Linked DNA regions of Homo sapiens: all the other regions are reported to be linked to region 4. Evidence: microRNA targets listed by miRTarBase, many of them from high-throughput screens and not tested one by one. Region 4 holds a microRNA gene; each other region holds the end of a gene's coding sequence.

Region 1 (5,102 bases), not on the chromosome of region 4:
CCCCGGAATCTTTTAGGGAAGATTTGCAGCCTGCATTATGATTACTATGTTTCTAGAGTTTATTGTAAAACCACAGTTTTAACAGCGGCTTCAATTTCCTTTCTCACTAAACTCTTCTGGCTACAGGGTAGATTGAAAGGGGCTGTATCCTATTAGCCAGTGTGACTGGTTTAGGCAAATCCTAGCTTGATCTGAGCCTGGGTCTGCTGTAGACCTGATGTTAACAACATCACAGGAAGAGATCATCACTAATATCCCCGGAGATTTTCCTGTGGCCTGGTCAACACAGCCAAATGAGATTATGCATGGACATGAAAAAAGCTGTGTAAAGTGTCTTGCACAGTGCTGGCATTCAACCGTGGTTCCTTTTGCCTTCTTCTTGGTTCCTATAAAGTAAAAACTCTTCAGGTAACTGCATAGCTGTGTAGTTGGATCTTAGACATGATCTAGCCCAGGATTTCTTAAGTCTTTGGATAGGTTTGGGAGTGGGGCCAGTGTACCCCCAAAGCATCCAAATTTGTGTTGTGCACACTATGTGCAGTTTTCAGACGAAGCTCTGTAGCTTCCAACACATTCTCAAAAGGTCTGAGACCCAAACAGCTGGACTATAATCTCCCTGTTTTACAGGTGAGGAAAATGAGGCTGAGAGAACATATGACTTATCCAAGGTCACATTATAAAGTGGATGCTATAGCAAGGAAAGCACTCCAGAGCAGTGATTTTCAAACAGAAATATGTAGAATTCTATGAGGTGCTTCTGTGATTTTGTAAATATTAGATTCAAATTCCATGTTTAAAGTGGTAATAAAAACAGACAAGCAAAATGGAGAAATCGAATGTAGACTCTGAATATAAGATTGGAACTCTTTCGTAACTCTAATATTGTTTTTCAAAACAGCCTCATTGTTCTCATTGAGTTACTTTATATTCAGTAAATGTTATAAATGTGAACTCAAGAATTTATCCTGGCAAAAGACACCGTAAACCTTTTACTGATGCAGTTACCTTTGAAAAAAGGGGTTTGCTGCTGAAAGTAAGAGGAAGAGGCACTTGATTCACTATTTACTAGCCAAGTAACTGTGAGAGCAGGTTTGTGAGTATCACAAGAAATGATATATTTTAAAATGCTACATAAGCTGAGAGTCTATGGAACACTGGTTTCCTCCTGCTCAGGACAGTGTGTTATGACATTTGTGGTTACAAATGCCCAATCGGGCCGGGTGCAGTGGCTCACACATGTAATCCCAGCACTTTGGGAGGCCGAGGTGGGCAGATCACCTGAGGTCAGGAGTTCGAGACCAGCCTGGCCAACATGGTGAAACCCCATCTCTACTAAAAATAAAAATACAAAAATTAGCCGGGCGTGGTGGCATGCGCCTGTAGTCCCAGCTACTCAGGAGGCTGAGGCAGGAGAATCGCTTGAACCCAGGAGGCAGAGGTTGCAGTGAGCCAAGATCACGCCATTACACTCCAGCCTGGATGACAAGAGCGAGACTCCATCTCAAAGAAAAAAAAAAAACAAACAAATGCCCAATTGACTCTCCTCTTTTTATAGTGAACTTTGGCTGAATTGGATGGCCCAAAACAAAAGTTTAAGTTTAGGGCCCAGTTAGGTGTGAATGTAAAGACAAATGAACTTTGATAGTCTTGGGAAAAGTTGTGATCTATCTACAAAATGGTGGTGGTGGTGTGTGGATGGGGGCACTAGAGGCAGGCAGTGTCACACGAAGATACACTGATACACCTCACAAATCTTTGGCATTAGACAGATCTGGGTTTGAATCCCAGCTCTGTTTCTTTCCGACCATGTGACTTTGGCTGTTTTAACCTTTGAGCCTTCAGTGTCCTCATCTACAAAATGGTGATAATAAAGTGTCTATCAAACCATTTTGAGATAAAATGATAGAATGTACATACACGTATTTGTGCACAGAGCTGAGTGACTGGTGCTCCCAAATGGTAGCCACTAATTCAAGACAGTTCTGTCAGATGTTGCAGGTAAAACACATTGGTTTTTTATCATTATTTGTTTCTTTTTAAGTAAAGGCTATGTCTATGTGATTAACTGGGTGACAGCAAGAAGTGGGTTCCTGTCCTGTTTGGAGGAAGGCAAAAGAAAATGAAGTCAGTTAAAGCTTTGTGGTGGTGGTGGAGGGTGTGTGTGGATCTTGAAACTCCCCAGGGAAAATGTGTGGGCCAGTGCACCAGAGGGTGCCTGGACCTGGGAGACAGCAGATGGCCCACAGCAGCCTGTCCCCTTCCCCTGGCCCACAAAGCACACGAAGAAGCCAACCAGCCAGCTCAGAACCGGAGGATCTAATGTACTACTTCTGAAAACGGAAATCCACAGACATTCAATACAGGCCGAAACAGACTCTCACCCCAAAAATATTAGTGAAAGTGCATACACTTTATTATGTACATTGTTGGAAAGGGAGGCCACCTGGAGAAACTTCTGCACTGGCACTGTGTTCCTAGAGCTCCTTCTATGCGTCCCTCCCAAGTGATTTAATTTCAGCTGATTGGACTACGAATTCACAAGGCAGAAAAGTCAAGGTCATTTGGTATCTGGAGACAGGAGAACTCAAGGAACCAAAAGCACTGTTACTCTAAGTCTCAGAAAAGGTTTTCAGTCAGGATATGGAGGCTCCTGGTCCTCAAGGGTGAACCACTTCACACAACAGATAAAACCATCATTTTAAAATTCAAAATGTAAGTGCAACTTGAGTTTAAGTTGCACTGCTCCATACCTCTAATAAACTCAGCTAGGAGCCAGGATACATGGTAGTTCAAGGCTTCCTAAAATAAGCTTGAAATTGGGGTACAGGGGAAGGGACATCCATTGGCTGGATGGACAGAGTGGTTGAGCTAAAGAGAGCTATAAAGGCTCGTGCTGGGAAAGAAAGCTGTTATGCTTAGACTTCTCTAGGTGAACTCAGAGTCTCAAAGAGGAAATGTTACAAATGTCACCCGCCAGCTTTCTGGCCAGTAAGCAGAATGCCAGGTTGCTCAGATTCACAGACATTTGCAAAACAGAAGATGTCTCCTAATATTATAGACTAAGAATTTGTTGTCCAGAGGAGCTGACCAGTTCCTCTTTCAGCATCAATATACATGATAGAAGAATGACTAGGTAAATTTAAAAAGACCTACATCTATATAGATATTGTAAGTTTGACAGTATCTGCCCAAGATCATTAGACACTATATAGTCAATATACTGTGAATTCCTTATACTATGTAATGAATGGGTTTGTAATCAACATATTTCACAGTGTACCACAGTTAACAGCATGCAGATAGTAAAATATAATGGTTTCCTGAAGTTATCTCTTAAAAAAGTATTTTAGTCCTTCAGCTATTCAAATAGATATATAACAATTGCATATAGAACGTAGAGAAAATTTTATTAAAAAATTAAAACTATTTAAAACCTGATATATGAAAATAGGCAACAGTGAGAAAAAAGCACTTTTGTGACAAATATTTAGCTGGTTTGAAAGACAGAACAAGGAGGAATCATTTACTCATAAAGAAGGCTCAAATAAGTTAAAACATGGATGTATTTTTAAAATGACCACTCTAGTAGTGAATTTAAAAGTCTTTTAAGGGTTAGAGTAATCTTTTTCATTAGTCTTGGCTATTTCCTCTAGTTCTGACAAGTACAGGCAAGAAAATGGCTACTCTCAAGTAAGGATTATTCTGAAACACGGTCTGGATTTAGAAAATAAATGAACATTAGGGAAATTTCCTTAATTAAGACTCTCCAAACCAGGTGTGGTAGCTCATGCCTGTAATCCCAGCACTTTGGGAGGCAGAGGTGGGTGGATCACCTGAGGTTAGGAGTTCGTGACTAGCCTGGCCAACATGGTGAAACCCCGTCTCTACTAAAAAACAATAATAATAATACAAAAATTAGCTGGGCATGGTGGCATGAGCCTGTAATCCCAGCTACTGGGGAGGCTGAGGCAGGAGAATCTCTTGAACCCAGGAGGCGGAGGTTGCAGTGAGCCGAGATCATGCTATTGCACTCCAGCCTGGGCAACAAGAGTGAAACTCCATCTCAGAAAAAAAAAAAAAAAGACTCTCTGGAGGTAAGGCACATATGACCTGGAGAAGCTGGTTGTGGTGTAAGGTCATCACTTTCTGCAAAGCATTTAGCCAGTCAGCGGTGTCAGGTGGCAGTTACAGCCCAGGTTCTTGCCTCTGGCCTGGGTGCTTAGGGGGTTCAGAATGAGTCAGTGGAAGTCAAAACAAGAGGGATCTAACCTACTACATAATAATCTAAAAATACAAACTTTTAACTATTTTAAGACTAACAGATTACCTTATATAAATCACCAATCTCTCAGTATTTACAAGCTAACAATTCTTTCACCTATTTTTATAACTGCTATACATTCTGGGAACACCACAATTGACATATGGAAAAAGAAAAGCCCTACCCTCTCTTTATGAGTTAAAGGCTAATTTGGTCCCCGACTTCATGCTTGGAAGGCTAGCGCTCATCTCTACACTAGCCTAGATGGCTGTGTTTTGCCCCTATGATTCCTTGCAGCATATCTATGGGCAGAGGGAAGACAATTGTTGAGTTTTTCTCAGCAGCAATGGTGGTCAGTGTCTGCAGGTATCGGAGCTGAAGGGCTGCAGGAGATTCAGTGATGACCATGGAGGCTTCTTTCAGAGCCCTGGATGCATTCATTTCTCCTTCGGCTGCAATAACCTATGGACAGGTGAAAGGAGGGGTTGAACTGGAGAAAACCTCATGGGGACACACAGCACTCTTCAACCGGGGGTATGTATACCTCAGGTGGTCCACAAAACTTTCTAGGGCGTATGCCAGAGTAGTTTTAAGAAAATCAATTTCTACATACTCAGTTTCCATATGCTTCTTTTTCTGAAACTGACTTGCCTGACTAGTGCCTGGATCAAGACATTCTCTTTTACTATAGCCTTTCTCCCATTTTCCAGGGTAACAAACAAAGGGATAATTCAAAATACTGTGCAGGATTGAGAAAGCAAGTAACTTTAATGACTGCAGGCAAATCCTTTTGCAAGTCAGCAGCATTTCCAATTCTCTGATGAGTACCTTACTAAACTGA
Region 2 (5,107 bases), not on the chromosome of region 4:
CTGCTTTGGAAAGTAACCTAGGAGAGTTATTCTTATATCCTTTCCTCTACTGGATTTGATAAAGCGTTAGGAGGGAGGAAAGGTGAATACATCACCAAAGCTCAGCTGAGAAGTGACAGAATTAGAAAACAATATGGAGGACCCCCAGGCTCCTGTAGCAGTCCTCACATTGGCTCCATTTGGGGCACAGAGTTATTGAGAAAGTAGTTGCCAGCAAGCAGCAGGTCAAGTCATGGAGCCCCGGAGGCCATTGCTGTCTGTCGTATTCTAGCTTTGATTCCTCCCATGTACACAGGGACCCCCTGGTTCTTTCGACTTCCTGCTACTTATGCTGGCTGACATCCGCAATGACATCACTGAGCTGCAGGAAAAGGTGTTCGGGCACCGGACTCACTCTTCAGCAGAGGAGTTCCCTTTACCTCAGGAATTTCCCAGCTACCCAGAAGCCATGGACCTGGGCTCTGGAGATGACCATCCAAGAAGAACTGAGACAAGAGACTTGAGAGCCCCCAGAGACTTCTACCCATAGCACATCCCAACACCGTCACGCCAAAGGAAGAGAAAGATCAACTCACCTGCAGTTAAACCATCTAAAGAGAAGAAAGACCACTGGAGACCTAGAAAACATACATTTTTCTCTTCTCTTCTCCTGACGTCTCTCCACTCCTCTTCTTCCAAATACGATGCTATTTTCAGAGTCCCCTCCTAGGCCTGCAGACATGAGGGAGTGAATGATTGATTTACCTGCTTCTCACTAAGAGTCCATTGGGGTGGTTTGCATTGTAACTTTTCTTTTACATCCTATTTTTCCAGGAACTTTGGATTTAAGTACTCTCACAGTGTCTTAAATCATAAATTCTTGAAGTTAAATTTGGCAGAGTATCAAAAGGGGGAAAATGACAAAGTGAGCTCTAAGAAAATGTGAGGCTACTTCTAAGATGTGTGTTCACAATAGACCATAACTCCTCTAGTATCAAAATTGGGGCTCTTCAGTTAAAAAGGGGTGGGGAGGACAAACGTGTCGATGTGCTTTGGTGGAGAATTTTTTCCTTGTGCTTCTAGTAGACTTTAAATATTGTATCCCTTTGTCAAACCTTGTTTCCCAAATTCAATTAAAGAGAGGAGAGAATTGAATGGCGTTTAGAGAAGATAGAAAAGAATCACAGTCATATATTTACTGTTATATAGATTGCCACATTCTAAAATTCAAATACGGTGCTTAAGGTTTCATGCCATGCTTATCTGTAAGTATCCTATTTAGGGAAGAAGATTAAACTCTCTTTTCAAAAAAACAAAGTGAAATGCCTGGATTCACATTAAAACAATGGGCTCTCGTTTGCTATAATATTTTAAAGCTGTTTAATCAACAGTGGAGTCTGCTCTATAAATATAGATTATTTGTTCAATAAACTGGCTGAGCTTAGAGAGAGGTGCAGAATTCCTGGTTCTGAGCAGGTGCCCAGAAGGTACCATTAGGTGCCATGATCCAGGCTGAACCAATATACAGTGGGGCTGAAGTCTGCAAGGAGGTTGCTGGCTTGGGCTGACCTCACTAATGCCATCAGCAGCGGTAGGTAAATTTTTTCTCCTTGGGTATTACAAGTTTTTGTCTGGAGCCAACCAAGCTTGCCACCAACATATTGAGAGTAATACACTATTGAAAGTTATCTTGGATGGGGAGAAAAAAAAATAGTGGTTTTCCTTGTTTGCAAAAACTTCCTTCCTATTCTCATTTTTTCTTAATTTTCTTTAATTTAGTCCAAGTTCCAGTTCTTTTAGGCCTTCTCTTTGATTTATTTTCCCCTGCATGTGAGAAGCAGTTCAGAAAAAGGTCTATATCTCCACCTCCTAGTGAGTTAGAGTGTTTTCTCAGAGCACCTCTGGGTGGCAAAGGGAAGCATGTTCCTGCCAAGGTTTGCTGTGGATTCAGAAGCACCAGGAGCAAGAGACCAGAAGGATGATCTGCTCCTTTGTAACGTTGTTGAGGGCCCTCTTGTTTCCAATGAGCAGCTTATAGGTTACTCACAGTCCACTTTCTCACTGGACACACAAAGTGGCTCTTTATCTACCTTTGCGGGAGATTTTCACTCTCCTGCAAATGATCGTTCTCACACTCATATTAGCTCATGTTGGAATTTCCCATCCTGCCATGTCCTTTCCCATTTCTTTTTGGCTTTTTTGCCTCCACCTTTTAGCCCACATCATTTAACTCCACTACTGTGAAAGCTTGCTTAAAGAAAATCCCTCTTGGCCGGGTGTGGTAGCCCACGCCTCTAATCCCAGCACTTTGGGAGGCTGAGGCGGGGAGATCACAAGGTCAGGAGATCGAGACCAGCCTGACCAACATGGTGAAACCCTGTCTCTACTAAAAATACAAAAATTAGCTGGGCGTGTTGGCACACACCTGTAATCCCAGCTACTCAGGAGGCTGAGGCAGGAGAATTACTTTAACCTGCGGGGGGAGCCTAGATTGCGCTACTGCACTCCAGCCTAGGCAACAGAGGGAGACTCTGTCTCATTAAAAAAAAAAAAAAAAAAAAAAAAAGGCCGGGCTTGGTGGCTCATGCCTGTAATCCCAGCACTTTGGGAGGCCGAGGCGGGCGGATCACGAGGTCAGGAGATCGAGACCACAGTGAAACCCTGTCTCTACTAAAAACACAAAAAATTAGTCGGGCGTGGTGGTGGGCGCCTGTGGTCCCAGCTGCTCGGGAGGCTGAGGCAGGAGAATGGCGTGAACCTGGGAGGCGGAGCTTGCGCTGAGCCGAGATCGTGCCACTGCACTCCAGCCTGGGCGACAGAGCGAGACTCTGTCTCAAAAAAAAAAAAATATCCCTTTTGTTGTGTTTGAATGCCACCTTTCAGTCTTCTTCCTTAAGAATGTTAGGAAGGGGCTTTGCAAACCTCTAGTGGCAACAGTCTTCCTTCCCTTCTTCCTACCACGTTGGAAATGCAGGACTCATGTCAGTCAGCATGTGACCGAGTCTTTCATGAACACTTTGCTCCTCTATGTCTCATTTATGCAAAATTCCTGGTGACTCTCCACTAACATTTTTAAAGTGAAAGCAAACTTTCACTTTAAAAAAAGTGAGCGAGAGGATCCCTTGAGCCCAGGAGTTCAAGGCCAGTCTGGGCAACATAGCAAGACCCCATCCCTAAAAAAAAAAAAATAAGTTTTATTAAATGTGGCACTTTCCCCTAGAAGGGCAGTAACCCCAGGAACCAGTCTGCCTCTTTTCGAATAAAGGAGACTTTTTAAAAAGAAAAAATTTCTTTTTAGGGTGGGGTGCTCTTTATCTAGCATCTTTCCTTCCTCCTTCTCTCTGCAAAATTCAACATTCATGACAGAGGGCCACACCAACCACGGGTTTATAGAGAGAGGAACTGAACAGCTGTTGATTCCCATCTGGAATATATTTAATGTTTGCCTGCTTGTGGAGCATGGTATTTAAAGGGTGTGGATGGATGAATGTTTAAAAAAAAACACACAAAACTATGCACAAGCTGTATGAGAGATGGCTAGGTCCATCTATGATTTTTTTTAAAAGAAGAATTTTAATACCTTTTCTTTGACAGTGAACTGTATTTAGAAATATGATCTTTATTGTGAAATGCTCATAAAATGCAACCAAACTGCATGTTTGGCCATAGGCTAGAATAATATATTAAAAGAATTAATGGAAAGTAGTATTGTCTGGGTTTCATGAAACTATTCCAGATAATATTCTCCAGCAAAACTTATGGTAACCTGTATTTTATAATGTCAATCTGCTGGACCAAGTTAATTTAGAAAATAATTTTTAATCCTCAGATTTTCAAAACTTGGACTACTGCAAGACTGATATGTACTTTTTATGCCCAAATCATATTTTTCAAAGATAGGACATCATAAGGCATCATTATTTCTAATGTATCTTTTAACTAGATAGAAAAAGCTTTACTGTCTAAACAGGACTTCTGCTCAAAACCTAATGGGAAAGCTATTTCTGGGGTAAGATTTGTAACAGTGCTTCTAGGTCATTTCATGTTTTATAGGGAAAAAGATCTTTGTACACCTCCTCAACCTGTTAGTAGAAATGTTGACTTCGATTTTTTGCACCCTCTTCACAGGACCTCATAAGTTGCCTCTGTTCTTGGAAAGCAATGGGAATAAAAATATGCTGTTGAAAATAGTGCATGGGGCCAGGCACAGTGGTTATGCCTGTAATCCCAACACTTTGGGAGGCTGAGGCGGGCGCATCATGAGGTCAGGAGATCAAGACCATCCTGACCAACACGTGGTGAAACCCCATCTCTACTAAAATAAATAAAAAAAAAAATTAGCCAGGCGTGGTGGTGCACGCCTGTAGTCTCAGCTACTCGGGAAGCTGAGACACAAGAATTGCTTGAACCCGGGAGGTGGAGGTTGCAGTGAGCCAAGATTGCGCCACTGCACTCCAGCCTGGCTACAGAGTGAGACTCCGTCTCGAAAAAAGAAAATAGTACATGGAGGGCATGCATTTTAGTTTAGGAAACCCCCCTCCCTTCCCAGTTCCAGAGGGAGAAATTATAAGCTATACTGTGCCAAAAGTGAGTGGGGCTGCAGAGAGAATGGTGCCTTTTCTCACCTTCTGAGTTAATGCCCGACATCTGCCATTGGATTCATTGACCAAAGGAAGTCATTTCTACTGTATAAACTCAGGAGTATCATAGCCCAACAAGTAAATAATAAATGTTCATTGGTTTTGGAAGGAAGGAAAGGTGAGTATTACCCCACCAAATACCAGCGAAGAGCACCCTGGCTTTGGCCATCTTTCCAAGGTTCATAATTGCTGTGGGCCTGGTGAGCCCTGTTCCCAGGTATGCAAGGGAGGGCTTCTCCAGGCCAGACATTTCTGTAGGTTTTCAGGTAGCAACTCCCCCATCATATTTTGGGTGTCATTCCCCACTCTCTCTCCCCACTTCTCAGCCTGTGCCCCAGAAACAACCACAGCAGCCTCATTCTGCAGACTTAACATCTGTCAAATAACCTTCCTGAAAAGGAAAGTTATTGGAGGAATCCAGGCCAAACAACAAGTAGAATAGAGCCATCTAAAGTTATTAATAATGAGTTCAGGGAAATAGATGAATT
Region 3 (5,107 bases), not on the chromosome of region 4:
ACCTCCAGTCAGAATGGCCTCTACATTTTGTCCCTTAGGAAGACACTTTGATTGTCCAGGAAGGGAAAAGTAGGTATGGCAGTTGCAGAGTGGGGGAACACTCTTAGTCCATCCACTGAGCAAGTTGATGAGGTAATGAGAAGTATTTGGAGCAAGGAAGTTGACAGCTCCAGTGCTTCCAAGTCTTAAGATTCTGTATCCATTACCAGGTCAGAAGTCTGCTGTAAAACAGTTACCTGGCTTAAGGGGCTTGGCTATTCAAAAGCAGGTCTGTGCCTGGGTGAGATAAGCCTTTTTCCTCTGAGGGAGACTCAGTGGGCCGGGCACAGCAGGGAGCAACCACACCCCAACTTGGACCACGGACAGTCTCACTCAAGCCCCTAGGACTCCCTGTCCCTTGGCAGTGATACAGCGGAAGGAGAGACATGCAGAACTGTGCCCACACCAGCAGGCTGTGGGGACAGGATCACACATGCCGCACAAACCATAGCGACTGTTAAGAACTTGAGCTAAAGGCAGGCAGGCCCTCACCCCCCGAATTCATCACACCACAGCCAGCCACATATTCCCTAGCAGGGGCTCCGTGTCTCCCGGAGCTGAGCTCCATGGAAACAACTCCCACCCACACACAAAGGTCCTGTCTTCTCTGGGATTTTTACAACCATTTTCTCTCTCCATGGTATTAGCTTTTGGTTTGATTCTCCCAACTATTAATAGATTATAAGTCCCTACTCTTCTATTTCATTTCACCATTGCCCTCAGACCTCCTCGCATTTAACATTTGGCTCTACACTGCATCCGACTGTGGGGTTTCCCCAGGATGCTCACACACATGGCATGATATGCAGAATGTTGTTCTTATTTCCTTCAAAATCCAGTTTTTTTTAAAAAAAAAAAAGAAGGAAATGGGGAAGTATTATTAGGCAGGAAAATAAATCCACAAAGGGCAGTATTCATGTCACTAAAAAGCAAACAAATGAATAAAGACACAGAAAAAAAGTGTTATTTCATTCATTAAAATTTTTATTTTGAATAGCTTCAATCAAAAAAGGTTTCATAAGATTATTTACAATGCTGAATGTACAATTATGAATGTATGCCTTTTTGACAAGAGGGTACCATTCTTGAGCAGCAATACAATTTTAAAAATATAAAGATGCAGTATCATTTCTGATATAAAGTTACTTAAAAAAATCCAAGGTCTTAGGGAATTCACAAATCATAACTAGAAGTAACTTTTATTAATTTAATGTACACATAATTACCAAATTTTAATACATTAAAAATGTGTAAATGCCCACAGACTGTACAAAAATTAACACCCCATTTTGTTAAAAGTTCCCAACCACCTCCCACCATAAATATACAAAAACCTATTTTTAGATATGTCAAAATTGCATGCATGAATATTTTCTAAAGCTTGAATTTTGCTCTTCACTGGATAATGTTATCTATAGCTGTTTCTGTAACAGACTACATAAACATTGATATATTATTTACCATGCCTTTGAAACTGTGCAGGACTTTCATAAACATGGGGAACAAAATAAATAGAGTAAAAACTGCAACAGTTTTGTTTAGATGCAAGTGCAATTGGGAAAGCTTTCGAATTTCAGGATTATAAAACTACTATAAAAGTATTTATTCTGTTGTTGGCTTAGCCACTTGTATTCAAGCATTATTTGCAGCATTGCTTTACAGCAGTTGGTGCTAGAAGATACAAAACATATAGTTACCACTATTTATACTTGAGGGAGAAAAAAAACTTTAAACAACCCTGAGGGAGACACACATTAAAAATCTTGTTATTTATTTAAAAAGTTAAAAAGTTACATATCATTATTTAACAATTACTTTCCCAGACATTTCTGTCCTTTAAGTATGTGCATAAATAAAATTTAAATCAGCAATATTCATCTTAATACATCAAAATAATATATGTACAGATTTTAAAATTTAGGTCTGTATAAACTCAAATAATTTAATGTGAAATTCAGAATCAAAATTACTATGTAATGGTAACCTACGAGAGAAGACTCAGTCTATCTATGGCACTGAGTAGAACCCACACCTGGCTTCACAGGCATTCTTCAAATAACATTCTCAACGTGAATAACCCACCTTGTCTATATTCAAATCTAACTTCCTACAAATGCTTTTCCAGCCACCTAAACACCTCATTCCTTTGAAAACAATATGGACAGAAGAGATATAAAACCCTTACTAACTCTAAATGTTAAAAAAGTGGGGGGGGGGTGTCAAAAATAGCTCTTTATGATCATGCTCTTAAAGATGTTAAATACAATCGGATAATTGAATTTTTAAGCTGCTACTTAGCAATTACTTTCATTATATGCTTCAGTACTTAAACCAAAGAATAAAATGCACAATTGTGGAAATCACTGAAGAATAACACGAGCATATTTGAAATTAATATGGAAATTATAAAATGATCCAGAGAATAAGTAACTATAGAAAATAGTGCTAATTCACAGCTCAAGAGGTCTAAGATGCATAGCTTCATAGAATCATTCATGGAACAACTGTTATCATCTAATGTGTATTAATAGCATATTATACATTTGATGGAAAACTTCGATTATATTTTTGCAGGAATCATCAGTGGCAATAGCAGTAACAGTGATCCTGAGTGTAATTTCTATTTTTCTATAGTTACCAAACATCATCCAGGTCTTTGCAGCATAAAGAGTGAGAACCATTTGGTCCTAAAATTCTAGGTAAAATTTGGTAAATTTGTAAATATATGTTGGGAAAAGAATGATCAGCTAGAAGTAGAAAGCACGAGCAAGCATGTTACTGGCTCTGGAAGAACAGAGAACAATGTCACACTGTTTTCATAGTTTAGCGTCCATTTTATAGCACGATCAGTTTTCTGTGTTGTGGTAACTGTGGGCGTTGCCAGACTGCTGGATCCACCTATAAAAGGTGTTTTTTAAAAGTTACCTTAATTTTGGCAAGAATTTAAATGTTAATCAGGCCAAACAGAAAGGTGAAAAATGTTTCTCCACATCTCTTTTGGCTCAATGAATGTCAATTTTTTAACTTTATTTCCTCAATTTTTTTTCTCCCAGAAATTTCCGCATCAAATATGCTCATTTGTAACGATCCAATTCAAAATAGACATGTTCTGACCTCTGGCGCCACCTAATGGCATAAAACAAACTCATCAAATTCATATTGCTTTGAAAAAACGGCAGCCATTCAAATCCAGTATTTTTTAAGCCTCATTATTGATAAGACAGAGACATACATCAAACCTCAAAAAATTTTATGAGGTAAAATTCTAACTTAAAAAAAACTATTATCCTATGTCTTTAGGTAATTGAAAACATAGAAGAAAATTTTAAAAAACCATTTAAAATAACACAAAGCCTGACAGAAACAAATTTGAAGAAACGTTAAAAGATGAATCTACATCTACTGCCGAAAGAAATGAATCTTATTTCCTAGTGAAAAAGGTTCTACAACATTTAACAGAAGCAAATTAGACTGCCAACACCACACATAGCACAGGAGCCATTTAAGAGCTTTGAGAGGCGTCTCAAGAAGGCAGTGAAGCACCTTGCTGATTAGAAAAATAAAACCCAGGCAGTTTGTACAGAAAATATAAAACCAGAAATGGAGATTACCTGAGTTGTTCTATAAGCAACACCATAAACACTCATTCCTAACTCTAGACCATCATAGGGAATTGGCATATGTTTATACAGAATTCTTTGGAAGAAACATTGGAATCAAATGAAAACAGGCTTTCAGTATATTTTCACTGGAGGCTAATTAACACTCATCTTCTTTTTATCAATCACAAACTTACAGCCTGTATATAAACACAGACTTTTCTAACAAGAGGGTTGTGAGCATAAATGTGAAGAGGTAAACTAGTCTCAAAAACTAATGTTGAAAAACCTACCAAACACCAAACTTCTCCTGTACCCAATATAAAGAATATCACTGAAAGTAACAATCAAGAAAATTCTGGAAATGTATGTAATATTTGGGTTGCTGAATGAAGATATAGGACTTTATGGATTGATTGTTAATTTAACTGTTAGGACGATATATTTTTCTGTTTTTATTTTAAGGAAGAGCAAAGCTGTCAAATAAGCTACTATATCAGAAGGGACATAAACTGAACTAGTGCCATTCTGACACACAGGATCAGAAACTCCTAAAATCACATATTCCTGAATACTGCTATCAGCAATACCACTGAGACTGATTCACTGCTATGTTATGGTGATGATTTGACATGATCCATTCTCCTTAACTAAAGCTTTAGCTTCTGTGGTTGTCTGAGGTTTTGGTGGCCATTCTGGATCAACCAAGAGCTCCTGCGCCAGATACATGTACTTTGCCTTTGGTGTCTTCTTTCTACAGCCCAGGGCCCAGGGTAAGCAGCATTTTCCCCACCGATCCACTGACTCCTAAGAAAATAAGAAAAAAACAAAACAAAACACCCCAGTTGATTAAAGGCTTGTCGTTTTAAACAGGTTTGTTAAAGCACACATTAGCAGAGAAAAATAAGAGGAAATGACTTCTGAGCACAACGAATGGGGGAAAAAAAAATCCATGTTAAAAAAAGGCAGCTTTGGCCGGGCGTGGTGGCTCATGTCCGAAATCCCAGCATCTTGGGAGGTCGAGGTGGGAGGACTGCTTGAGCCCAGGAGTTCGAGACCAGCCTGGGCAACACAACGAAATGTGTGTTCTTTTGTTTTATTTTGTAAGGGCAGCTTTCAATTATTTAGGAACTGATTATTCTTTAGATTATATTTTTTTTGGGGGGATAATCAATATGATTGACTTCATTTAGTTTTATATACCTATACTCTTGTGTACTAATACCTTTTAAATAACTTGCAGATATGGATTCTTTACCACAGAATATCTAATGTATTAAGAACTTTAAGCCATTCAGAAAGAGAAAACATTTTTAATATTTAATTTGAAAATCTTCACATTCTGTCCCAAACTATCTTTTGGTACTATTGCTCCTGGCAACTTAGCCGCATGATCATTTTTGGAAGAAAGCTGTGTACAAGTATCCTTGTTACTGTTAATATCATCTCTCAAAACATGAAGTAAATAT
Region 4 (5,107 bases):
CCTGAACCTGGGAGGCAGAGGTTGCAGTGAGCTGAGATCACACCATTACACTCCAGCCTGGGCAATAGAGCGAGACTCTATCTCAAAAAAAAAAACAAGAACAAAAAACTGCCCAAATGAGGTCAACATAAAGGCACTGAAATAATATTAGGATGAAATAATAGATGTTAAAAAAAGAACTGACTCCCTAATGGGGTCACAGTAGAATTTTTTAAAGTTGAAGTACATTAAAACCTGGATGTTACATTAAGTTATTTTTTAAAACTTAGAACAAGGAATCCTACTACCTAAGCGCATTTTATGGAATAAATTGGTTATCATCCAAAAACCTGACTCTAAAAAGGAAGATGGGCCAGGCACAGCGGCTCACGCCTGTGATCCCAGCACTTTGGGGGCCGAGGCAGGAGGATCACGAGGTCAGGAGTTCGAGACCAGCCAGGCCAATATGGTGAAACCTTGTCTCTACTAAAAATACAAAAAAAATTAGCTGGGTGTGGTGGCATGCGCCTGTAGTCCCAGCTACACGGGAGGCTGAGGCAGAAGAATCGCTTGAGCTGGGAGGCGGAGGTTGCAGTGAGCCGAGATTGCGCCACTGCACTCCAGCCTGGGTGATAGAGTGAGACTCTATCTCAAAAAAAAAAAAAAAGGGGAAGATGTTCGTCAAATATTGCGTATTAGTACTGGTACAAAATTACTTACTAAGTAAAATCTTAGCCGACAATCAGTTGAACCAAGGGATTGTGAGACCTGCCTTTTTTTTCTTTTTGACTCTGCCATTAACAAGCAGTGTGACCTTAAACAAATCATCTAGGCTTTATTGGCCTTAAGGGTTTTTGTTTGTTTTGCATTTTGTCTCTTCTGTGTGTTGAGTGGTTTTTTTTTAATCTACAAAGATACTAGATATTCTTTTCTAGCCCTAAAATTATTTCTTTAGCAGGAAAACTGCATACTATTAAATAGAAGAATTATACATTGTGTCCAAATAGTATTTATCCCAAGAATGCAAGTCAGTATAACAAAGAAAAATTAATAGTCTATTATAGCAGTAAGAAAAACTAATATAATAAAAATTAGTAGTTGCTGAGAGGAGCGATTATACAAATTATATTAAATACACTCAAACTGGAATAAGAAGCATTTTTGATTAAAAGTACACATTTATTAATGTAACTGTTTACTTTCTGAAGAAATGAATATAGTTATGTGGTTCAGAATTCAGAGGCACACTATGAGTATACAGGTTGAATATCCCTTTGAAATGTTTGGGACCAGAAGTGTTTTGGATTTTGGACTTTTTCAGATTTGGGGATATTTGCATTATACTTATCCTAAATCTGAAAGTCCAAAACCTGAAATGACCAATAAGCATTTCCTTTGAGCATCATGTTGGCACTCAAAAATTTTGGATTTTGCAGTGTTTTGGATTTCAGGTTTTTGGATTTTAAGTGTTCAACCTGTATAGTGAAAAATATCCTTCTTCCCCTTTCCCCTTATCACCTAGTTTACTTTCCTTGAAGCAATCAATTTTAGTTTCAAAACCAAGAGCCAAGAACCAGAGCCAATGTTATCTCAAGGGTGAAATCTGTAGGCATTTATGAATGCTCTTGTTGGGTGTTTCGTCCAGGTGCAGTGGCTCATACCTATAGTCCCAACCCTTTGGGAGCCTGAGGCAGGAGGATCACTTGAGCTCAGGAGTTCAAGACCAGCCTGGGCAACATAGTGAGACCTAGTCTCTATAAAAAATCAGGTGGTGTGCCCCTGTGGTCCCAGCTACTCATGTGGCTAAAGCAGGAGGACTGCTTGAGCCCAAGGGGTTGAGGTTTCAGTGAGCCATATTCATGCCACTACACTCCAGCTTGAGTGACAGAGCGAGATTCTGTCTCAAAAAAAAAAAAGGAGTATCTTTTATTGTTTACTCTAATTTTAACAAACATTTGTAGTGAGTGATACAAAAACAAATGAAGAAGTGACATAGTAAAGAAAGAAAGAGAGGTAAGTTATCAATGTAAGGTGGCCGGATTATGGACATAGAAAATATTTTTAAAGAATTATAAGTAAGGAAATGATATGAGCAAAATGACAGAATATGAGATAAAGCCAACAAAATTAAATTTCCTATTTCTGAGAAAACAGCTAGAAAATTCATAATTAAAGAAGTCTCATTTACAGTAATAATAAAGGATAGTTAGTGCTTGGGAATTAACTTGGTATGGAATACTTGACATTGATTCCAATAAAATTATAAAATCTTAAAGAAAAAACAAAGGAATAGTTGGAACAAATGGAGCTACAAACTCTCCCGTTGTTGGGAAGAGTCAAGCAAAGATGACAGTAGTCCCAAAGGTGGTGAGCAATACATCAAATGGAAAACCAAGTATAATTCCGTCAGGAGAGTTTATAGAACTCAGTAAAGGCAAAATTTATCAGGGAAAAGGAGTGGCCAAGAAATGCAGAAGTATATTTCTAGGGAAAAAGGACAGTGATGGGAGATTTGCTTTACTAGTTTTCAGAATGTATAATAGTTACAGATGAATTGATTATCTAGAAAATCCAAATCAGTTGGAAACAATTGGAACTAATAATAGAGTTCTGTAAGGTGACTAAATACAAGTTTAACATATGGAAATTAGTAGCTTTTGGCCAAGCACAGTGGGTCACGCCGGTAATCCCAGTCCTTTGGGAGGCCGAGGCGGGCAGATCACTTGAGGTCAGGAGACTTTGAGACCAGCCTAGCCAACATGGAGAAACCCCGTCTCTACTAAAAATACAAAAAATTAGCCGAGTGTGGTGGCACATGCCTGTAATCGTAGCTACTCAGGAGGCTGAGGTAGGAGAACCTCTTGAACCCAGGAGGCGGGGGTTGTGGTGGGCTGAAATTGTACTCTGGCCCGGGCAACAAGAGCGAAACTCCGTCTCAAAAAAAAAAAAAAGAGTAGGTCAAAGCAGAACAGGGGGGTAAAATGAGTGTTCTCAGCTGATTCAGGTAGCAGAGCACCTAGGATAACAGACACTGGATACTTTGTTTCTTTTTTTAATTAATATGAATAAAACTACTCTAAGTCTTTATGCAAACGGTTGTGCCTATTCTGCTAAAAACAGAATGCCTGGATCAAAGGGAATTAATATTTCTAATCATAATGCATGTTGCTAGATAGATATTTAGAAAGAGTATGTTAGCCAGGCACGGTGGCTCACACCTGTAACCCCAGCACTTTGGGAGGCCGAGGCGGGCGGATCACCTGAGGTCAGGAGTTCAAGACCAGCCTGGCTAACATGGTGAAACCCTGTCTCTACTAAAAATCCAAAAAGTTAGCCGGGCGTGGTGGTATGCACCTGTAATCCCAGCTACTTGGGGGGTTGAGGCAGGAGAATTGCTTGAACCCGGGAGGTGGAGGTTGCAGTAAGCTGAGATCGTGCCATTGCGCTCCAGCCTGGGCGACAACAGTGAGACTCCATCTCAAAAAAAAAAAAAATGAAGAGTATGTTAATTTATAATGCCTCTAGTACTATATAAGTTTGTTTCCTTGTAACTCCAGTACTGAAATGTGTCATTTTAAATTTCTACCCAGGTAGAGGTACCTCACACATTTGAATTTTTATTAATCATGCTTCCTTTTTCCACGTGTGGGTTTATAATTTTGTTTTCCATGTCAGCCTTCTATAATATAATTGAACCACTTGTCCAGTGAAATCTAGATCCTGGCTTATAATGTCATATTTTGTATATTCTAAGGTGCGCATTTTATCACACTTCAATAACTCTAAAATCTGGATGTGTGTTGTAGTGGGTGACATCTTAACAATTATAATTGGCAGCATTTTTTTTCTTTGTTAGATAAAATAATGGTTTGCCTTATCATCAACAAATAAGTAAATCTGCGTATTTTGAGTTTATTTTAAAACTTATTTAACTAATTATTGTCTAACCTATTATATTAAGTGTAAATAATCCATTTTTACCTCCCCTTGTTGAAGAAACTCTAATGTTGTATACTGTATTAAGTTCAGAGTGAAACCCAAGCCCCCTATTACAGCCTGTAAGGCCCAACATGGTCCGGCTCCTTTGCCTCTCTCTCCCCTCACCGTATACACGCTCATCTTCACTATGCTCTAGGCTTCTTGCTGTTCTTCAAACACAAGTACATTTTTGTGTCTGGGCCTTTATACTTGTTCTGTCCCCTGGAATACTCTCATCTAGGTTCCTTCACTTCAGCTCTTTCAATGACTGACTTTTACCATTTATGTCTCAGCTCGAATTTTAATCCTTGGACAAACTTTCTTAGCACTCTATCTGAAGTAACCCCTGTCACATCATCCTGTTTACTTCCTTCAGGGCACTTAGGACAATAGAAAATATCTTGTTTCATTTGCCTCCTTGTTCTTCCCACACCCAGAATATAAACTGGATAAGAACATGACTTGTTGACTGTGGTGTCAACAATGGTATGTTCCTAGCATGTAGTCATCACACCTTTAACAATGGTTGAATAAACATTTAATACATAATTGGATTTAGTTTTTACCCTTCATTTCTTCATTTTATTCTACTGAGTTAACTGAGTTACATTTTTCTTTCTGCATTACTTTCATGTTGTTTTATTTATTGTTTCTTTTTTTTTTTTTGAGACGGAGTCTTGCTCTGTTGCCCAGGCTGGAGTGCGGTGGCGCAATCTCGGCTCACTGCAACCTCCGCCTCCTGGGTTCAAGCGATTCTCCTGCTTCAGCCTCCTGAATAGGTGGGACTATAGGCGCCCACCACCGCACCTGGCTAATTTTTGTATTTTTAGTAGAGTCGGGGGTTTCACCATGTTGACCAGGCTGGTCTCAAACTCCTGACCTCGGCCTCCCAAAGTGTTGGGATTACAGGCGTGAGCCACTGCACCTGGCTATTTATTGTTTCAATATAGTTTCACATACCTAGTAAGACTAGTTATTTCCCCTTTGTGGCAGTTGTTTTTCAGTACGTTCTCTGATATTTATAACTATTTGTTCATCCATATGTATTCTTGAATAATTTGTAAAGGTCCCAAAAAGTCCCTGTTGGATTATAATTATAATTAGAAGTGAATTAACAGTTAGCATTTCCCTCTTGTTTATTCATTTCTTC
Region 5 (5,091 bases), not on the chromosome of region 4:
TCCTCATCTAGGCTGTGTCACTATTGGGTGCAAGGATATCATTGTTGGCTAGATTCATTTTGTATAATCATGTATCCTCTTGTGTGCTGGTAGAGATTTTAATCCTGATTTTTCCATAAAACATGAGTATTAAGAAATAATTCCTGGTTTGGAGAAACTGGAGAAATCACCCTTTTAAGGAAGAAACACTGGAAATTTCTGCTAACACCAAGATATTTAAGAGTGTACATAGTAGGTGCTCAACAAATTTATTGAATGAATGAGTGAATGGAAAAACTGGGAGAGTCAAAAGTGAGCAGAAGCTCTCCATTTCTACTTCTGTCACAAACCACATTAAATTGTAAATAAGGCCCTTCTCCACTTGACTTCAGGCAGCAGATTGTCTAGAAGCCTAAGGACAGCAATTTCTCTGACAAGACAAAGTAGATATTTTATACCAGGGGTTGGCAAACTACTGCCCACGGGCCGAATTTGGCCCAGTCTGTTTTTGTATGGTGCAAACTAAAAATGATTTTTACATTTTTAAAGAGTTATAAAAGAAAAAAATATGTGGTCTGTGAAATCTAAAATATTTACTACCTGGCCTGTTGGAGGAAAGGTTTGCCAATCTCTGTTTTATACCATTAACTATGAGATTAACAAAAACTTTTACCTTTGTGCAGAAGGTTAAAAAAAAAAAAACATGGTTAAGGAAAAGGAGACATGTTACCTCTTCATACACTCCTATAACTGTGGCATTGCAAAAAATAAAAATAACCACCTTTAAAAAAATAAATCTTATTTAAATTGCTGTCTTCTGACTTATTTTGATTGCTTCTACGTACCCATGGAAATGAAATATGTGTGAGTAGTTACTTAGGAATGTGTTGATTTTTATTTTATGCTTTGTTTTGATTAGCCCTATAACTTATATTCCACTAGTGGAAGCTCTTCCTGGAATCCATAAATCCTCTTTCTCAATTTTCCTTTTTGTGAAGTAGGAATTAGATCAGAAAGATTAGCATGTTTTTTGGAACATCAGGAAATTGGCTTAGAGGTCCTTACTATTACAGTCTTAGTCCTTTATGTGGTGGTAGCGATAGGGTATGATAGAGCCTATTTTAATTTAGTAATCCTTATTTTGGGATTTTGGGTTGTTCTCACCTTGATTTTTGTCACTGAAGGAGTCAGGTTATATCCACGGTCCCCTGAAGGGTACTTGTTTCAATTTGTTAGTAGTCAGTTCTTTCTTCTGGGACTCTGCTATGTATGTCACAGTTAAGTATACTCTCAAACTAATGCTTAAACAGAAAATAGAGGATCAGCTCATTAGGCTTTGAGTTTAGTTATCCACTTGACTCAGGTGCTAATAAATCCTTTACGTCTAAAATGTTCAGTATTGCAAAGGGCATATTTTTTTTGTTTGTTTTTTGAAACGGATCACTCTGTCACCCAGGCTGGAGTGCAGTGGCGCCATGTTGGCTCACTGCAACCTCCACCTTGCGGGTTCAAGTGATTCTCCTGCCTCCCCCTCCCAAGTAGCTGAGACTACAGGCGAGTGCCACCACACCCAGCTAATTTTTTGTATTTTTAGTAGAGATGGGGTTTCACCGTGTTAGCCAGGATGGTCTCGATCTCCTGACCTCGTGATCCACCCGCCTCAGCCTCCCAAAGTGCTGGGATTACAGGCGTGATCCACCGGCACCCAGCTGCAAAGGGCAAATTTTAAACAACCATATCTTCTATGGTAAGATTGAGTTTTAGGCCAGATTTTGGATTTCAGTCATAAATTCTCAACCCTCTAAAACTTTATAGTAGCAGATTATTCAAGTGAGAAGGACACTGATAACAACTCAAGGTAATTTTGCTTTTTCCATTAAAAAGAATGAGTACACCAAGTTCTTTCAGATTAGAAATGGCGGGAGCATCAGTTTTATCAGTTTCACTGCAAATTTTGTAAAAGTTTTATAATGTTTTCATAGGTTGTAATTCAGAAGTACAATGTTTTATAGGTTGTAATTCAGAAATACAAGTACATAAGAACCATCTGTTAGAGGATATGCCACTGAAAGGGACAACCGACTAATTTAAAAATTATCTATTGGGTGATATGATTAACAATATTTCAAAGAATTTTTTTAAGTGTTTGGTTCTTATTAACGGACTGGTATTTCATTTCTGACCAGTATCATGTAAAAGCTTCCCTAAAATTTTTATTCTGGTTTACACGGATTAGCATAAAGATAGAGCAAAAATTTCATCTTTGAAGGAGATCTGGTTAGATCCATGGATATCTGAATGGCATTGATTTATAAACCAACATTATTACTTGTGCGTTAATAATGAAATCTAAAACTTAGTATAAGTTCTTAAATGAAATTCATTTGACTTTCTGATATGAGTGACTCTTAAGGTTAGAAACATATGAATTTAGAAAAATGAAACCAAATGTTTTCAACAAAGTAATTTATTTTTTTCCTGAGACTAAATTCAGTACAGTATTTGTTTTTATAACATCCAACATGTCTTATGTTAAACTTAACCACTTTCTATGCAGTGACTGTGGTGAGATGATCTATTTTATTTGACTACCCTCAATGTAATTCATTTGGGTAGTTCTAAGGCATATCAGTGATCAAAATGTTTCTCCCTACAGTTACTCTTGCATTCTCAATCAGTTTCTTCTGCACATCATCTAAAGAAAATTTATGTGGTATGATTACACTCTTTTTTTTTTTAATACCAGAATTTCTAAAACTAAGAAAAACACTAACATTTAAAACATCAGTGTTTCTAGTCAAGGATATTTCAATTAAATTTCATCAGTACATTATAGTTTAACTCATGCTAGAAATGTTAAAACCCAAGATCTTCTGAGTCACATAATACCAACATTTCATATTAACGAATAAATTACTCAAGTTCTATACAAAGATACTAAGTGATGAGAAACAGAAAAAGTTAAGCTTTCAATAGTTTTAAAAAAATACAGAAGCAAACTAATGAACACAACTACGCAAAATATAGGCTAACCAATTGCAAGCTAAACTAGTTAGAGATTAACCTTTAAAAAATACATTTTAGAACTTAGAAGCAAACTAATGAACACAACTACACAAAATATACACTAACCAATTGCAAGCTAAACTAGTTAGAGATTAACCTTTAAAAAAATACATTTTAGAACTTCGTGACACCCTCATAAAAGGCAGCAAACTAAGGGTATTAAAACAGTAGTCATTATTTCAGTTACTGTGCATCAAGTCTAAAAGATCCAGATAAAGGGAATGTTTTGTGATTCAATTTAAATAACTTTAAAATTGGAAACATTTAACAATTGATAATATAATTAAAATTTAAAGAATATACACAAATGATCTGAATAGGTTTTATATTCAGTAACTTGCATGGTTTTTACACTGACACTTTTATCATTAATTTAGGAGAATCAGATGCATTTCCCTCCATATACCTAGGCATTAAGATTCCAAATTTATAAATATGGTAGTATAGTATTTTAAATATTAAGTTTGTACATGAATATTGGGTTTATCCGTATTTTCCTTTGTTTCCCAGGTATTATCCAGTTTTGTAAGGAAAACACTTTGATATCACAATCAAAACTTGTCTTGGTTACTAGGCTGTAGCCGTAATTGGGTTACAGTCACTTAGATTCATTATTTGGAATTATACTTAACTAAGACAAACCTAAATGAAATTTATCTCCTAGAAGAATTTCACATTTGCATTTACCTGCATGGCAGAATGAGTTTAAGCACATTTTAGCTGTTAGGAAATATTTAATTTACTTAAACTTGTTATCTGACTACTCAGAACTCTGAGTAGTCAACTGTACCTTTGCGTTTACTTAAAACTATATCGGATTCACTTCAAATAGAAGATTTTTAAATAGAAGTTAGACTTCATTAAGGTACTGGTATTAACTTTAAATCTGAAAGAAAACATACTGAAAGTTTGACAAGTTCATTAAAACATTTTTAGCATGTCTTGGTATATTTATCAGCTTTTTATTCTTCTTTCTGCTGGCATTTCCTTAATGTTTGTTTGTTTCACCTCTCTGGTTCATTGGATTGCTACTATTTATGCTTTCATGGACTTTATCTTCACAGTTTACTGTATCTTGTAAAGGCTTTACCACATCAGCTGTACTGGCTGTTTTTGGCAAGGTCATCTGCAGTGCACACCACAGGGCAGTGCGTGTTTTCCGAGTAGCCACACACATCTCTTTAATTGCAGAAGCAAGGGCAAAAACATCTGTAAAATAAACATTCAGGGTCATTTCATATTAAATGCCATTTAAATATCTGTTAAATCTTACAAAACCCAGTGCTTTTGCTACTAAATGATCAAATGTTATTTTTGTAAAAAAAGGATAGTTATTGATTGAACCAAAGTCCTGTCCTTTATCATTAAAATATTTAAAAGTATTGATACTTTATTTCTGACTTGTACAATAGTGACTATAGTTTGAGTAGAACACAGACTGTCTTGAAACAGTTATAACAGACAAAATTAATAAAATGGAAATACTTTTGGAGTAAATAATGTGGAGATTATTTACCAATTTATTCTGTAGGTAAGTGTTAATTTTAGAAATCTAATCTTTCAACCTCAGAATCTGATTTTATCAATACCTAAATTATCACACTGACTTATCACAAGAATATGCATTAATATTTGTACCTCTGTCATCTTGGCATCTAGGAACTCCTTGCCTTTGCCGATTGGAAGCATTAACAATTTCATCCTTTCTACGTGACTGTACAATGTGAATAGACTCCAAGTGTCTATCAAGAGCAGTAGAGATACTGGCATGAAGAAGAGAACTCCGAAGACGTTCCATTTTGCCTAGTAAAGTCACAACCTGAGGGAAGCATTTTAAATTTTGATAAGACATGTCCTGCCATTAACTTAAGTAAAAACAAATCTTCAGTGAAGCAGAATAGAGATGACAGCAATAATATTCATTCAATAAATCAAAGAATGCTTACTGTGTCCTGACACCATGCTGGGGGAAACAAAAATGGAAAGTGTTTTCTATCTACTTGTCTATGTTAATTCTAAAAATATGTGGTAGTTGATTACTGAAAA

The links. The annotated mature microRNA hsa-miR-5009-3p reads UCCUAAAUCUGAAAGUCCAAAA and lies in region 4 at 1,327-1,348, shown strand. An mRNA with a match to its seed (bases 2 to 7 or 8) in the 3' UTR can be bound and repressed. Matches are read on the target gene's strand: a 7mer-m8 pairs with bases 2 to 8, a 7mer-A1 pairs with bases 2 to 7 and ends in A, and an 8mer does both.
Region 1: miRTarBase lists STOM as a target of hsa-miR-5009-3p. Seed matches in the 3' UTR shown: 7mer-A1 at 2,798-2,804.
Region 2: the mRNA of CCBE1 is a reported target of hsa-miR-5009-3p. Seed matches in the 3' UTR shown: 7mer-m8 at 1,256-1,262 and 7mer-A1 at 4,503-4,509.
Region 3: the mRNA of ATP13A3 is a reported target of hsa-miR-5009-3p. Seed matches in the 3' UTR shown: 7mer-A1 at 4,188-4,194 and 7mer-A1 at 2,725-2,731.
Region 5: miRTarBase lists MEIOC as a target of hsa-miR-5009-3p. Seed matches in the 3' UTR shown: 7mer-m8 at 3,687-3,693.

Annotation. Positions count from the first base shown.
Region 1 is chr9:121,336,686-121,341,787 of GRCh38, forward strand. STOM (stomatin) reads right to left here. Exons shown (of 7, transcript NM_004099.6): 7 at 2,302-4,723. The coding sequence ends at 4,517. Among named protein-coding and RNA genes, the nearest start is that of STOM, 31 kb to the right of the region's middle.
Region 2 is chr18:59,431,330-59,436,436 of GRCh38, reverse strand. CCBE1 (collagen and calcium binding EGF domains 1) reads left to right here. Exons shown (of 11, transcript NM_133459.4): 11 at 296-5,107. The coding sequence ends at 529. Among named protein-coding and RNA genes, the nearest start is that of LMAN1, 75 kb to the right of the region's middle.
Region 3 is chr3:194,401,672-194,406,778 of GRCh38, forward strand. It overlaps ATP13A3 (ATPase 13A3), which reads right to left. Exons shown (of 34, transcript NM_001367549.1): 34 at 1,006-4,445. The coding sequence ends at 4,248. Among named protein-coding and RNA genes, the nearest start is that of GP5, 5.0 kb to the left of the region's middle.
Region 4 is chr15:89,880,190-89,885,296 of GRCh38, reverse strand. MIR5009 (microRNA 5009) reads left to right here and starts at 1,267; the gene lies at 1,267-1,366. The region is part of intron 7 of ARPIN-AP3S2 (ARPIN-AP3S2 readthrough); the gene reads left to right. The region is part of intron 3 of AP3S2 (adaptor related protein complex 3 subunit sigma 2); the gene reads left to right.
Region 5 is chr17:44,673,139-44,678,229 of GRCh38, reverse strand. It overlaps MEIOC (meiosis specific with coiled-coil domain), which reads right to left. Exons shown (of 8, transcript NM_001145080.3): 7 at 4,684-4,864; 8 at 2,429-4,254. The coding sequence ends at 4,034. CCDC43 (coiled-coil domain containing 43) reads left to right here. Exons shown (of 5, transcript NM_144609.3): 5 at 1-790. Among named protein-coding and RNA genes, the nearest start is that of CCDC43, 14 kb to the left of the region's middle.